Regions from separate parts of the Homo sapiens genome. Here region 2 is linked to region 1. Evidence: fine-mapped expression QTL. A gene starts in region 1. The other region holds a variant in brackets. All regions are shown on one strand. Distances are between the middles of the regions.

What was found. PIP is the estimated chance that this variant, and not a neighbour inherited with it, causes the effect. A credible set is the group of variants that fine-mapping cannot tell apart.
Region 2: its variant is the best candidate, but not a certain one, in a credible set for the expression of PLRG1 in skeletal muscle (GTEx, PIP 0.69).

The regions. Positions count from the first base shown.
Region 1 is chr4:154,548,720-154,553,125 of GRCh38, reverse strand. It overlaps PLRG1 (pleiotropic regulator 1), which reads left to right and starts at 2,726. Exons shown (of 15, transcript NM_002669.4): 1 at 2,726-2,826; 2 at 4,191-4,297. The coding sequence starts at 2,818. RefSeq lists enhancers at 715-1,009, 2,393-2,552, 2,573-2,622.
Region 2 is chr4:154,570,278-154,574,683 of GRCh38, reverse strand. FGB (fibrinogen beta chain) reads right to left here. Exons shown (of 8, transcript NM_005141.5): 8 at 1,877-4,265. The coding sequence ends at 4,034. Among named protein-coding and RNA genes, the nearest start is that of FGB, 9.5 kb to the right of the region's middle. The variant G/A (reference allele first, on the strand shown) is at 1,628.

The sequences.
Region 1 (4,406 bases):
TGTAGTAGAGGATGGTGAAATTGTGATAAGTAAGACCCGAGGACTCTCTCTCTCTCTCTCACACACACACATACACCTTGCTAAGATATTTATAACTGACAGTTTATAACTGATAGTACAATCTAATTATTCCCAAAGTCTTTCCAGGCATTAACAGGAAGAACAGCCCCTTCACTGTTCCTTATAGTCCCAGAAGCTTGTTTCAACTATGCTACAAGAAAGTATCTGCTAACACTACCTTAGTATTTAGGCAAATTCATAGCATTGTGCTAAACAATTAAAGACCAAAGTTTTGGAAGAAATGTCCAAGTATCATTTTTCACAGGTTTTGACCTCAGAAATTCAAATAAACAGTGATAACTCCCATGATTACTTCCTTTTGAATTAACGAACAATTTCAAATATGAAATTTAAGGGATGGACATACTGAGCCACACAACTCTAAAGAACATTGCATATAGTGTTTTTTAAAGCTTGTATATTTAACCCTCTAAGTTGAAACAGAAAAATAAATAGTAATATTTATTATTTTATAAGAATCAGAAAACACTTCCTATAAAAATATCATAAAAAGCTGATGAAAATGGCACTCAAATCTATACTCATATGACCTATCACTGTTCAAGAGCAAAGGACAATATTTGAAGGAGAATAAAAAGAGTTTCTGTATTGGTGAGTTTAAAAAATCTTGCCTAAAGAAGGAGGGCTTTCCTTAAAACTTGTATTCTTGGTTTTACACAGACATAATACTAATAATTTATATTAATAAGTTACTTGCCGTGTCTGCTTTAAGGACAGCCCTGAGGGCCCGTACAAAGAGCAGTGGTGACACCTGCTGTTCAAATAAGGCAGCTTCGGGTGTCAGCCAGGCCATGTGTGTATGACGGAGCCTTTCAGGAATCCAATTAAACTTGTGGATCCTTTCTCCAGAAAATAAAACATATTCCCATATAAATACAAAATTTTCCTACAATATACATAATTCATGAATCCCTGAACTAAATAATAGGGTCACTTGAGTTCTATATTTATCTAAAATATTGTAAACTTTCAAGGGGATGACATCATTCTATAAATTCACGACAGTGTTTTAAAAGGAGCAAATTCGAGGCAATTTACCTCAATCATTACCATGTTGTTATTGAGAAATTAAATTAATGTCTCCAGGATGATTAAATATGTAAAAAGTTAATAGATCCAACTAGACAATTAATATATTGCCATATATATTAGTCTTGCTTAGGTTTCTATGGTTTTATTGTCATTTCAAATCATGTTATTTTCTATAGTTATTATTAATAGGTGAGTATATTATTTAGTTCATCAAGTATATATTTTACAATTATGGTATTTTCTTGCAAGGAAATACCATCACCTGCCACCTTTACAGAAAAGCAATTCTTAGGCCAAACTCACAGTTAAATTCAGAGATGCTGTATCTTCAAGTAAAAACATGACCTTAAGGCAGGGCTCAGTGGCTCATGCCTGTAATCCTAGCACTTTGGGAGGCCGAGGCGGGCGGATCACCTGAGGTCAGGAGTTCAAGACCAGCCTGGCCAACATGGTGAAACGCTGTCTCTACTAAAAATACAAAAATTAGCCGGGCATGGTGGCGGGCGCCTGTAATCCCAGCTACTCCAGAGGCTGAGGCAGGAGAATAGCTTGAACCTGGGATGCTGAGGTTGCAGTGAGCCAAGATCGCGCCATGGCACTCCAGCCTGGGCGACAAGAGCGAAACTCTGTCTCAAACAAAAACCCATGACCTTAATGTTTTTAATGAATTTCCAAGTAAGGTTGATTTATATTGCTATTCTTTTGCTAGATTTTTTCCCCCTCTCAAAGTGTAAGCAGTATGCTCTCAGGACAGGATTAGTGAAACTGAAACAGGGCCAGTAAAATGTTTGTCTATTTAAGTTTGTAAATGCCTAAGTCCATCCATTTTTTTTTTTACATAGAAAAATAATTGGGTAGGGTTGATCACAAACCACAGATTTTACCAGGGTAGAAAGCAAAAATACCAATACTTGGCACAAGGATATGTATAAATAAAAATGGCTAAAGTCTCCAATTGTGTCTTCTACCAGCTTTGAAAAGCTGTACCCTGGCATTGTTGAAGCCACAATAATCAGCAGGCAACTAGGAAATGGACAAGAGCTATGCAGTTTTGAGAAATTAAAAAAAAAAATCTATTAGCAGAAAATAAATATGGGGTTTTGTTATAACTACATGTCAAAATTTTCCAAATTAAAACAGCTATTCCTCAACGTTCACTTAACAAGTGTTTACTGGACTGTTTAAGCGAAATTGTTTTCAGGTGTTAAGCCTACAAGTGTCCAAGTGCTTCTCGCCAGGATTAGAACCAGGAGACACAAAGCACGCAGGCGACCTCCAAAGAGATCAAGGTAGTGGAAATGCCTTAGATAGAGCCCACGGGAGTTTGCTCTCCAGACGCTTAGGTTCTCTGAATAAAAAGCGTTAAGCTTCCGGGGAATACAGCACGAACAACCAGGACCCCAACTAAGGCAGAAAACATAATTCTAAGATTTCTTCAGAGGGACGAGTGAAACCCTCCACCCAGGCCCTTCCAGGAGTCTCCGGCTTTCAGCCTCGAGACTCCGCCCTAGAGGCGGTCCCGAGGAGGGAGACCCGCCTCCTGATCCTAGATGGCCGAGGGAGACTAGCGCGCGTGCGCAGAGCTTGCATCACATCCGCCGCCTGGGCGCCCAATTCCGGAAGGTGCTGCACAGCTGTGGCGGCGGGTACTGCGTTAGTGATTAGAGTTTCTTCCCTGCCGGAGGTGGGATACACGGTAGCATCATGGTCGAGGTAAAGTGACACTGGGGCTCTCAAGAGTCGTTTGTCTCTGGACTGTTTTTTTTGGCAGTGCGCGTGGGGGATTGAGAGTACTTGGAGTCCAGAGAGAAAAGAGGCTACGAGGGGAGCTATTTGGCCAAGGCCGAGTGGTCTCTTCTTCGGGTTTTCGGGGAAGGGGTAGAAGCCGGATGAGAACCCGAGTCGGAGGTTCAGCCTGGGCGCGAAGCCTGAGATAATTCGTCCAGTCCTCGTTTGACTCTTGGGAGCTGGAAAGTGTCCTCGGAGGCGGGGCCTCTGTTGGTGATCGACCACTGGTACTTGCCGCCCTCGGGGCAGTGTCAGTGAGTCTGTGCCCTAAAAGATTGGTAGTCTTCTCTATCTTGCGTTCAGGTCGTCTCTTATTTCACCTCTACCCCCAGAAAAACTTGCCGTTCTTTACATCTTTCCCTGGCATGAACAGCCAACGCTGTTAGCTGGTCTTGTCCATCTTACCCCACATGTTTATTGATTCCATTCACTCTTCTCCATATCCGCTGCAGTCCACCTTAATTGAGACCAACATCATCTTTCACCTGGACTGGTGCATTAGCTCCCCGTTGGTTGGTTTCCTTGCTTCCATTTTGTTCTATAAGTTGTTCTGTTTAAAACGTAAGTTGTTCATACCTTTCTTGTTTAAAACCCTTTACTGACCCTATGTTGCTAGAACAAAATATAGGCTGTTGTAATAGTCTAAAAGACCTTACCTAATCTGGACCTTGTCTACCCTTGCAGCTACAAAGCACCATCTCATCCTCCATACACAGCTGTACTGCGCTCCTTGTATTATTTCAGTTAACTGAACTTTTTTTTACATGACATTTCCATCAGCCTGGTTCGTTCTTACCTCTGTTTTGTGCAAGGCTAACTCCCTTTCTGCTTAAATATCACCTTAGTGAAATCTTTCACAATTATACTTAGTCCTTCATTCCCTGACTCAGCGCCTTGCTTGTTGCCTTCATAGCACTTATCAAAATGTGGAATTATTTTACTTTTTATTTGTCTGTTTCCTCTTGAGCACAGGGACCATGACCACCTTTTTATCATTCTATTGTGAGATTCTAGCACAATACCTGCCAGACACACAGTAGGAGCTCAGTAAATATTTATTGAGTAAGTTAAACTCCGGCATCACTCAGTTGCTAAACCTGAGGTTCTAGCCAAAGAGGAGCTTCCTCCTCTTCTCTGAACTTGACTCCTGTAGCTTGCAACAAGTAGCTATGGTGAGTGGTATAAAGCTTTTTACATATTTAAACACGTGAAGTGTATAATCAATCTGACTTTAGGTTATGATTTGTGTAATTTGTAGATAGGTGTGTAATTACATTCTTTTTTTTTAGGAGGTACAGAAACATTCTGTACACACCCTTGTGTTCAGGTCGTTGAAGAGGACCCATGACATGTTTGTAGCTGATAATGGAAAACCTGTGCCTTTAGATGAAGAGAGGTTGGTGTAGTTTTTTTTTTTCAATTGCTAAAATACTTAACATTCTAATACTAGGGGAAGAGAGCAGGGAGAGGGAGTCCTTTAAAGATAAGCTAGTCATGGGCTAATT
Region 2 (4,406 bases), 22 kb before region 1:
TTTTAGTAGAGACACTGTTTCGATTTCACCATGTTGTCCAGGATGGTCTCAATTTCCTGACCTCATGATTCACCCCCCTCGGCCTCCCAAAGTGCTGGGATTACAAGCGTCAGTAAGTTTAAATGATCAGCATACAGGATATTATGTGTGTAATGCTTAAACAGAAATGTGAGCTGAGCTACTGCAGCTGGTGATGTGTCATGTCACCCATATTTTTGCCCCATGGTGGGAATCTGTAGTCAGTTTAAAAACAATCCCTGAGTTAGCTGTTTCTCTTGGTTCATAAATAAAGAGGAACTAGAAGCTTATGTCCCAAGTGCATACATCCATTATAGTTTGTTGCAGACTTTCAGTCCTAATTGTATAATTATATATACATATATATAATTATATATGTGTATATATATATATGTATATATATATATAAATAAAATAGTTCTCATACCACAGTGTGGGATTAAAAACTTTCAACTAATCTTTCTATTATCATCTTAAAATCATGAGTTATACAATCTTGTTGTTACTGTTTTATATATTCTAAATAGGGGAAGCTACCTTTTTTATTATATTCAAAATTGTGCATGGGCAAAATCAGACACATAACATTTCTTACCAAATGACACCTTAAGAAAGTGCATTTCTTTTTTCGTTACTGTATTTTCGTTTGTTTTTACAAGTTTTATAGTAGAGCCAGGGTCTCACTATGTTGCCAAGCTGGCCTCTAACTCCTGGTCTGAAGCAATCTTCCCACCTCATCCCAGCAAAGTGCTGGGTTTGCAGATGGGAGCCACTGTGCCCAGCCAAGAAAGTGCATTTCTTTCTAGATAGACTTACATATTACCTGGGAGTGGTCTCTGTGTTTTTTCTATTTGTACATTAACTAAGAATTGACCATCAGATTATCTACTTTAGTGGTTTTTCTTCTATGGCATTACTTCAAGCTCTAGGGATTCATTTGATCCTCTGTGAACACGTAAGGAGTGAGCAAAGGTCTGATGACTGCAGTCTTCCCAACCCGCATTTTTCATTCAGTGAACTTTTGCGACTCTCAGTATTGCCCCAAAAGTTCCATATTCAAGAACTTTGCATGTTGAGTTTCTGTTTGTGGCTTTATTGGAAAATGGGTTCTACATTTAAAAAGAGGATGTTCGAGACTTTGAAAATCACTGGATTTAGCCATCCAGCATTCACAAATGCATGAAAATTAGCCATTCTGACAGGCTGATGTTTCTGGAATCAAAGCTGGATAAGCCTCAGGCATTCATTGTCAAAAAGTAATAAAATTTGCCCAAAGGTTTTAGAAAGTCTTCTCTGGGCGGTGACAGTTAAAGTGAGGTTTAAAAACAAATAGCAGTTTGTCAGATGGTGTTGGGAGGAAGACATTGCTGCAATGAGGGCATCATATAAAAGGACCTGAACATTGTGAATAATGTTGCAATGACCACAGATGCACAAATATTGCTTCCAGATCCTGATATCAGTTCTTTTGGATATATGCCTAAAAGTGAGATTGCTGGATCATATGATAATCAGAATTTTTTAAAAAATTTTTTAGGGGCCTCCACATTTCTTCCCATGGTAGCTGCACCGTTTTACATCCCCACAACAGTGCGAAAGGATACTGTGT[G/A]ATTTCACTTATATGAGGTATCTGAAACAGTCAAAGTGGAAAATAGAATGGTAGTTGCCAGGGGATGGGAGGTAGGGGGAAATGGAGATAAAATTTCATTTTTAGTAGATGAATATGTTCTAGAGATCTACTGTACAACATAATGCCTAAAATTAATAATACAGTATTGTGCACTTAAAAATTTGTTGATAATATTTCATATTAAATGTTCTTACCATGAAAAACTAAAATAAATGAACACAAGGAAACTTTTGGAGGTGATGGATATATTTAATATCTTGACTGTGCCAGTGATATCATGGGTGTATGCATATTTCCAAAATCATGAAATCGTATATGTTAAACACTTTGTATGACAGATGCATCCGACAGCATTAACTCAAGCATACCCTGAGAATGACTGTATGGTCTAAGAAGAATATGTGTTCAGAGTCTAAGCTAAGGAATCCGGGAATGGCCAACCCAGAGAGATTCACTTCTTATCTGTGAAGGACACTTGAACTCCCTGCCTGTCCGTTGGAACTCAGGATGTGCAAGGAACCAAGGCCTTTTATTTTGGGTTAAATGGAGGTTGCTAAGTGGAGAGTGCTAAGTAGAAATGTTATATAAACTACATACTCTTTACAAATAGTAGCGGTCCTGTCCAGCCCACTGCCACTGGACCACATCTGTATTTAAGTCCTAAATAAACCCTATGTCCCATTCACTGGCTCTGGGTCTCTTCTTGGACAAGGCGCCATCCCTGTTGGAATCAATAGGGCTCCAGCATGACACATGTGCAGGATTTTTTAAATTATATCAATTATATCTCAATAAAGCTGTTGAAATTTTTAAAGGGCCTGACCTGTCCTGGAATGGGGAAAAACTTAATGTGACAAAAATGTAGGTTATAGTGAAGGGAACAGGAAATGGTACTGGGACCATTTTTACTCCAGCTAAAAAATTTGAATTTAAGAAATTTGGATATAGATAGGAAGGAGCTAATGTTAAGCAGGAAGTAAGTTGATAAGAGTTTTCTGTTAAATGTGATGGCAAAGCGGTAGGTGAGTATGGGCTCCAGTGGGACAGAACTTGTGGCAGAGAAACCAGGTCAAAAGTTAAAGTTGGATTTGGTGAGTAATTAAAGAGAGTAGTAGCATTTCCAAGACAGAAATTAATGAGCTTTGCTTACATGAAAAGATTAAGAGGATAAGCTTAAGAACAATAAGTACCATAAAAATGGGTGGCAATGATGATACATTAGGGGTGGAGGACCTAGGGTCATAAGGTTGCCCGTGGCGACTTGGAGTGAAGTGTTGAGATGATATGCCCATTTCATGGGGAGAAGTAGAAAGAACAGAAAAACCACTTTTACTTTAGTTCTGGTGTAACTATGAAGAAAAAAAAGCCTAATTGAGGACAAGAATAGACCTCGTTTCTATGGGCAACAGGCATATTCTGCTCCCTATTTCATTATTTCGCTTAAAAAACACTTGGTGAAGACTTGATGCAGATTGTCCTCTTGGAATCTCTGATCCTGATGTTTATTTAAGTGGCAGAGTGGTGGCTTTTCCATGGTATATAGTCAGATTCTTTTTTTTTTTTTTTTGAGGTGGAGTCTCACGCTGTTGCCCAGGCTGGAGTGCAGTGTTGAGATCTTGGCTCAATGCAATCTCCACCTCACAGGTAGCTGGGACTACAGGCACCTGCCACCACGCCTGGCTAATTTTTGTATTTTTAGTAGAGATGGGGTTTCACCATATTGGTCAGGCTGGTCTTGAACTCCTGACCTTGTGACCGCCCGCCTCAGCCTCCCAAAGTGTTGGGATTATAGTCGTGAGCCACCGTGCCCGTCCTAGAGTCAGATTTTAAATCTTCAAATATTCAAGACCGGTTTATTAGCTATTTGAGGTTGTGAACGCTTCTCCTTCCTTACAAGTGCAAAGCCTAACTCATTGAATGTGTGGATTACAAAACAAGAAAACATTAACTTATTGCAACAGAGTCTGGTTTAATTAATAAATCTTTTTGGAAGTTTTCTTTGACAGATCCTACATAAATAAATATAGTTTTAAAAGTGGACTTTTAAACATCAGTTTTTCCTTTCCGTCATGGTTTTCCTACGACAAGGATAAAAGACCCCTCTTCCTTATTTGAAAATTCTCGCAATCAACTAGAACTGAAATTATGAACACCAACTCTGTCAAAACTATACTTTTGTTACTTCTTGGTGAGCAAGAGAAATGAAGAAAACAAAAGAAAATCATGTGCTATTTTAATGTAATTTATCCTATACTTTTTTCAAAAAGTCACACTCACGTCTGCTTGAGAGTTTTAGAGGAATATAATGTATGAAAGAAAATTCCAATAACATAATGTACAAAAATGTTGTCACATACAGAAGAGCAAAAATCTACGTATTGGGGACTATTGCTGTGGGAAGAAGGGCCTGATCTTCATACTCATCTTCCTCATTGAGTACCATGACCCCTTCCAATTCATCCATACTACACCATCATCTGTGCCATGCTTTGCCATGTCCCAGGTGTACTGTCCACCCCAGTAGTATCTGCCGTTTGGATTGGCTGCATGACATCTATTATACCACCATCCACCACCGTCTTCTTTAGAACACTGTTTTCTGGGATCTGATGTTAACCTGAAAGAAAATGTGTTTGGCGTTATTAGAAACAGAACTACGGTGGTCAAGTTACGTTTTGCAGATTACCCATAAAAGACTGCTACACTCGTGTGCACAGTAGTCTTTCCTTTGGGTGCTATACATAGAGTCACACTAATA